Homo sapiens: one gene and its partner. The protein of the gene in region 1 purifies or fractionates together with the protein of each later gene. This does not show direct contact. Each region holds a gene or a part of one and is shown on either strand. Other genes may lie near its edges.

What was found.
Region 2: the proteins of AQR (region 1) and PPP4R1 fractionate together in Homo sapiens (co-fractionation; one large-scale study listed by BioGRID). This does not show direct contact.

What each region holds. Positions count from the first base shown.
Region 1 is NC_000015.10:34,851,281-34,854,896, forward strand, and holds the end of AQR (RNA helicase aquarius), read right to left. Parts: 3' UTR 502-3,616; downstream 1-501.
Region 2 is NC_000018.10:9,548,509-9,552,163, forward strand, and holds part of PPP4R1 (serine/threonine-protein phosphatase 4 regulatory subunit 1), read right to left. Parts: intron 1,891-3,655; coding exon 1,770-1,890; intron 1,679-1,769; coding exon 1,544-1,678; intron 831-1,543; coding exon 689-830; intron 1-688. UniProt on the Homo sapiens protein: Regulatory subunit of serine/threonine-protein phosphatase 4. May play a role in regulation of cell division in renal glomeruli. The PPP4C-PPP4R1 PP4 complex may play a role in dephosphorylation and regulation of HDAC3.

The DNA of each region.
Region 1 (3,616 bases):
AGCAACCAACCAACCAACCAATCAAAAATGGCCCAAATGAACCAGTGAACTAAAGTAGAAAAGGATCACTTCCCATCCAGAACTGTTTTTCGAAAAATGTCAATAAATTCAGCTCTTAAAAGAGCTTTTTATATTAAACCAGGCATCTTTCAAAGAGAAGCAGCTACCTTTGAGGTTCTTGAACTTAGGTTGCAACACAAAGATAAGTATAATAGAGAGAGTGCACAATGTTAAATCAAAGGTAGAGGGGAAGAGGATTGTGGGGACAGTTATTCTGGAGATCAAGAAAGAATTCAGTATGCTTAATGCAAAGTAACTGCTGGGGTCCTTGTGTGTTAAATATTCTTATGCGAGGAAACTGTCTTCATGTTTTATATTTGCCTTCATTTTCTTTTATTATTTCCAGACCACCTCTATTGGTTATGCTAAGTAATCCTTTTCTCTTTTTGGAGTTTAAACTTTTTAAGGAAACAAAAACTAAAGAACAGAAAGCCAGACACATTGGAAATACAAACTCTTCTTTTACTGCATAAGAAATGAGAAGAAAAACTTAGTGTGAAATTCTGGAGTCTAAAATTAAAATGTAAACAGAGAATGCTCAGTGACCTTTTCTTAGGAGGCTCACATGAAGGAATGTCATGGTACATTGACCAAACTTTTATTCATTTGCATTTTCAGGATGTTGCGATTAATACCACATGACACTCAATAAATTACACTACGACATTTTGTACAAATCACTTCACTTCTGGTTTCCTCTTCGGCTGTTACTTCACCCTCTGGTTACCTGTAGGGAAAAAAAATGTATTTTGGGGCTTTATCTTTAAAGGGCGATTCACAGTTCTAGCCAATGTAAAGATATTGGTTCCCAAGGAAATAGCTACCTAAGTTATGTTTTTTTTTTTTTTTTGAAGGAGTTTTTGCTCGTCGCCCAGGCTGGAGTACAGTGGCGCCATCTCAGCTCACTGCAACCTCCCCATCCCGGGTTCAAGTGATTCTCCTGCCTCAGCCTCCACAGTAGCTAGGACTACAGGTGCCTGCCACCATGGCTGGCTAATTTTTGTCTTTTTAGTAGAGACGGGGTTTCACCATGTTGGGCCGGATGATCTCGATCTCCTGACCTCAGGTGATCCGCCCGCCTGGGCCTCCCAAAGTGCTGGGATTACAGGCGTGAGCCACTGCACCCGGCTCGTGTTCTAAGGAAATAGCTACCTAAGGTATCTTATTAAAACAAATGAACAAAAAGTTTCCCAAACTGTGTTCTAAGGAAATAGCTACCTATCTTATTAAAAAAAAACAAAAACAAAGTTTTATGCTCTAATAAGTTTGGGAAATGCTAGGTTAAACAAAGCTAAACATGATTCTTTCCAGTGGGACATCTGAGAGTCTTTAATTAGCTAACAGTGCATTGTGATTCTGCAAAGGAGGAACAATAATTCACTGTTTCCCAAACTTATCTGACCATAGAACATATTTCTCAGAGTATTTTTCAAGAGTAGTATTTTCTGTAATATATGATGAAAAATAATCGTATCGGCCATCTTTGTACATAAGGTCAAAATGTCAGGCAGCCCTGAAATAAACGCAAGCCAAAAGGTAGAGAGATAAGTGAATAAAGCTGGCACACTGTCAGTCCGGAGTACCATGCTGCATTCTGAGTCAAGCTCCAGGAAACTGAGCTAGGGTTTGTCTCTAAGAAGAAAAACTGGAGCGTCCAAAGCTTCTGGATTCCATTTAATTAAAACCCTTTTAAATTAAATCCTTGTAACTGAAGAGTATCGGTGGATGAAGAAAAAATAGTCTCACATGTCTTCATTTCCATCCTTGGCTCAGTACAGCTCCAGTTCCATTATTCTTAAACATCTATTAACATGATTGCTAAATAATTACACAGGCTAACTGCCAAGCATTTTTCACAGGAAGCAAGGCACTGCTCTTCTGGCTTATGCAAAAGGGTCACTGTTTTTTTTTTTTTTTTAACTTTATCTTGTTTTGATTGAAGAAACATCTCTAAAAATACCATCTGAGTGCAAGATAAAAAGGAAATAGCAATTCAAGGCACAAAGCTAAGCACATGCAACAATATAGATGATTTGGGGGTGGGACAGTACAGAATTCAGAACTGATAGAAGTTATCAGCTCCATATTTCAGAAAGACCTAATGTCTTCCTTCTGCTTATACTGTTCTGACAGAATTTTAATTTTGGCAGAGATCACTCTCGATGTTATGATGTACTGATTCAGAGGTCCCAAATCAGTAACCTGATCCTAGATAGATCCTCAAAGGTCAACTGCCACTAGGTGTCCCCTTCTTGATCATTCTTCATGCTGCCTGGATTGGGGCATGGCTAAGCACTCAAGTCAAAGGATTAGTTGGCAATATCCTACATTGTCAACAAAGCTTTGAAGAAAAACAGAGACAGAAACTGGTATTTACTAAGTACCTAGGTGATAAATTATTTTCATAAACATTACCCTATAAAACAGACAACTCTCCTGTCCCAAATCCAAACAGATCTTTTTCCTTTATTTACAGATAAAGAAAATGGGCTTAGAGAGGTTATAAAATTTGTCTAAGGTCTAACCAAATGCTGATAAGCAAATTAGGTACAACTCTGAGCCAGGTCTCGATGAGTCCAAAGTGTGTTTTATAATATCTTGCTGTCTCTTGATCATTACAAAATTTCATTTGTTTACAGGAGCACAAATGGCCTATTTATGCCTTTTCTCTCAGCATCTAGCAAAACATCTCAACTTTTATTACACCAACTTTGGGAGTCTTGATGATGTTTAAATCTTCTCATTCATTTGCCTAAATCAATAGAGCTATTTATCCTCAACTGTTGGCAATGAACTTTCTTAACTCAGAATTTTGAAAAAAAAAAAAAAAAAAGAAGAAGAAATTCTAAATACTTGAATTGCTTCATTTCATGCTCATTCTTTTGGGCATGGCTCTTTTTGGTTTTCTTTACAAAGAGATTCTAAAATCATGACACATTTAGATATGAAAAATAGGATGGAGAGCAATGGGAACACTAATCTGAAATAGTCACATGGCTAGAGTACCTGTGTCTGTAGTAATCCCAAACTATATAGAAAACTCTTGAATTTATTAAGCAATCCCTCATGTGTGCTTGATTGAAAAAATAAACAAAGCAGTGCCGTAGAACTGTAGACTTGGATTCTACCCCCACTCTTCCATAGTTGCCACCCTGGTTAAGTCTCTCTGATTGTTTCCTCATTATTTAAAATAAGTACAGCTCTTAAATTCCTTCAAAAATTCCCAAGATTCTACAGTCAACTGCCACTCACTTGCCTTTCCAATGAATAAACCGTTTAAAAGAATTCAAATCCCACCACCTTTACCCTTTCTAAATTCTTTTGACAAGGACAAAGGACTTACCCATCCATCTTCCACCTAAATTTGCTTTTTAGTGATAGAAAAACCAAGCAGCAAAGAAAAAAGTATGGTCACTCATCTAGGCAAGAGTGATGTACATTGCTTGGACAATAGTTAAGGAGAGAGCACTTAACAGCCAGCTTATTTTGGTTGCAGGTATCATACCTCATATCCCCTAAGGGAGAGAGAAAAATCAATCTTTTCCAGGAAAGATGG
Region 2 (3,655 bases), on another chromosome or scaffold:
AGAGAAAGCAGAAGGGAGAGCAAACATAGGTAGGTACCAGCCCCCATACTGCAGATTGCAAGTGGCACGCTGCCAGGCAATGGTTTGTACATAAAAACAACACCCAAGTTTAAAAACTAAGTTTTAGGTCAGGCACGGTGGGTCATGCCTGTAATCCCAGCACTTTGGGAGGCTGAGGCAGGCAGATCACATGAGGTCAGGAGTTCGAGACCGGCCTGGCCAACATGGTGAAACCCCATCTCTACTAAAAATACAAAAAATTAGCTGGGCGTGGTGGCGGGCACCTGTAATCCCAGCTACTGGGGAGGCTGAGGCAGAAGAATTGCTTGAACCCGGAAGGCAGAGGTTACAGTGAGCTGAGATCGCACCATTGCACTCCAGCCTGGGTGACAGGGCGAGACTCCGTCTCAAAATATCAAGCAAACAAAAAAACCTAAGTTTTAAATGATAAAAATGATACATGCTTCCGATAAATAAACTCCAACTAGAACAGTAGAGGGCTAATTAAAAAATCCCTTTCATCTTCCATGCCCTCTTGGGAGAATCACCGGAACAACTAAAGTATTTCCTTCCACCAGATTATTTTCTCTGAGCAGACAATACTTCTGCTTTGATATCTGCTGATCCAGTGCAGTCCACAGACCTCCTTCTCTACTCACACGCTTCTTCTAGTGGAGTCACTACCTACCTTTTTCTAGTAGAGTTTGTCTTAATGTCTTTGCAAGCAGCACTCGCACGTTAGGAACCCTGTCATTTGCTAAGGTTAGCAGATGCGGCATGAGATGCACAGCAAACTGGTCCATGGGAAGGCAGTCATCCTCAATGACAGTCTGGGGAAGAGAAACAGCTGCTCTAGGCTTCTCTGTCAATGTAGCCAAAAACTCGACTACTGGCTAACAAAATCTCTGAGTGACCACAGGTACAAATTTTAGTTATTGCTTTTTAACCAAAATTCCACGTACTTGGGAACTCAAATCAAAAATTACATAATTAACTGCCCACACGGACAGACACAGTTTTTAAACTGCTCTACGGAGACCTAGAGTGTTCATTCACAGGTGTTTCATTTTCACACCTGCGCTCTGGGTCCCAGACATGAGCACCCTCTAGTGGGAACCGTGGTATGGTATATGTGTGCACAGTATGTGTGTGGTGGGGTACATGTATGTATGCCTGTGTAATATGCAGTGAGGAACAGTGAGGAACATGCATGTATGTGCACTGTGAAATGTACATATACACACGTCTGAATGTGTGCAGAGCAGAACACGCACATACCAGGCATGTGGTGTGGAACAAGCACATACAGCAGGCACGTGGGGTGTGTGTGGTGCATGCCAGTGTAAGGAGGGGCTTGGCTAGCTGGGAGAGAGGGGCCACCAGATGCCCAACAATGGGGGCAGATGATCCTATAAACAGCCAGGCTACTATAAGGTTCTGTTCCTTAAGAGTAAGGAAGAGGGTGAGAGAGAGGTAGGAAGTTAAAGAAGACATTCTTCTAGGAGAAAAACTCACAAACAGGTAAGCCCAGGGCCTCGCTTACCTGGCAGACAAAGACAAAGGCTTGCCGACCAGACCACTTGGGACATCTGCCAAAGTTCTCCACAAGCTCATTGATGAGGTCCACTCCGAACGTTGGTGGTGTTGCCGCGTGCAGCTTCTTCACCATCTCGCTGACCTGGGAGGGTGAGCATGGAGAAATGAGGAACAGCTTCCATTCTAGGATCTTAGAGTTTGCTGATCTAAAATTTTAAAAGTTCAATACATACCAACTTGTAGGAAATCCAACGAACAGAAGAAACTTTGTCTGCACACAGATTCAGAGCAATGGGACGTAAATAGTCATAAACATCTCTGGGACTATATAACTCTAGAAGTAAAATCAGCTGTCTACAAAAAGGAATTACAAAAAGACAATGTTTAAAAATCAGCGAGACAAATGAAAATAGGTTACCCATTTAAATCATCTGTAATACTGGATTACTGAGCACCTGTCTCAAACATACGCAAAGAGGAGTGATTAAGCAGACCTCTCCTGTACAGTTACCTCCAGTCTCTGTGTATCTGGAAATGCACTTACATGCTATTCAAGTTCCTTAGAGTGTAAGGAAAACAAAAGCTGTAGAGTTCTGCATCCATGGGGACTGAGACAGAGCAAAGCACTTCCTAGTATGTTCAACTGGAACATGGCCCACACTGATCCATGGTCACAGTTTGGAATGTGCTGAGAAGCTTCCATCTACAATCAAGTTTCTCAGTAAGAAGTCCCCGCAGAGGGAGGGAGTCCACTGTGTACCTGTCGAGGCTCTGAGGAGCCTTCCTGGAAGGGATTTGCTAGGGATAACAGAGGGAGGGTGTCCTCCAGCAACCTTCCCATCACATCTGAGGGGCCCTGAGACTTTCATGACATCTACCAAGCTAACCTGAAAGCTTCAATGATGGCCTTGAAGAAATACCTTGGATGTGAGACTTTTGCCTTTCAGATTTTATGTTCAAGAGGATTTACATTTCTAATAAGCAGAAAGTCAACTGTAACATGAATATAGATTATGCAGCAATGATAAATGCACCTGTGTATACAAATATGCATCCTCAAAGAGACACACTTATTTTCTGACAAAATTCAAAATAAAAATTCCAAATAGGACCAGTTTCTGCTTAGAATACAGAAAACTGCAAAGAACGTCACTGACCCTACAGTAGAAAAAGCTACATAAACTTCAAGATCTTTTCTTGAGCCCATCAGAGAGCTGGGGTTGCAAAGCACACAAACAACCTAACTTCCCAAGATGGGAAAGAGAACTGCCCCTCAGCAGAGCCCGGATGGACAGGACACCTGCTAGCACCTAACAGGGCAGGGAGAAATCAGCTCGAATTGCAGTCAGCTGCCCAGGGCCAGATGGTGGCTGGCAGGAGCATGGGGTGGCTCAAACAAAGCCAGATGTGCCCGACACAGGGAGCTCACATTCCCAGACAACCTTCTGACTTCCACAGGGTACCTGCCTCCCATGGGTGCTTCAAGAAAGATGGTCAGGAAAAACAGGAGAGATGTCTCATAGCAGGCAGAAGCAACTGACTGACAGCCATGAATCATCAAGCACTCTGCTGGGCCCTTTTCTCGTGCAAAGCAAAAGGCTTAACCTGCTGGTGGAGGGGCCCCAAAGCCTGTCCACCCTGTGGGCCCAGCAAAAATACTGCAACTGTGGGAGAGGAGAACTAATGCTCCTTATTCCAGGAGGAGCTGTAGGAAGTCCTGCCCGAGACCAAGCACAGATAGGAGGTCCCACCCATTACGCAGGGGTGCAGGTACCGCTAAACGCCGGGTGGAATACTCACACTAGAAGACCACTGGTACCCCAGCTGCCACCCTCAGCAAACGACAATGGTAGTGGCAGCCCACAGCGAGAAAAACTGAAGCCCCAAGTACACTGAACGTAACCACAGCAATCACAAAACGCAAACCCAGCTTGACCCTGACTAGATGGACTCACACCCCGGCACTATATGGCAGAAGAGGAGGCGTGTGTTTTGAGTCAGAAGTGGGCAAGCCAGAACTCAATGGAGTGGCATCTTTAATATACTGAAAGACAAACTGTCAGCCCCACATTCCATACTCAGCAAAGACATCATTTGAAAATGCAGGTGAGGTCTATAA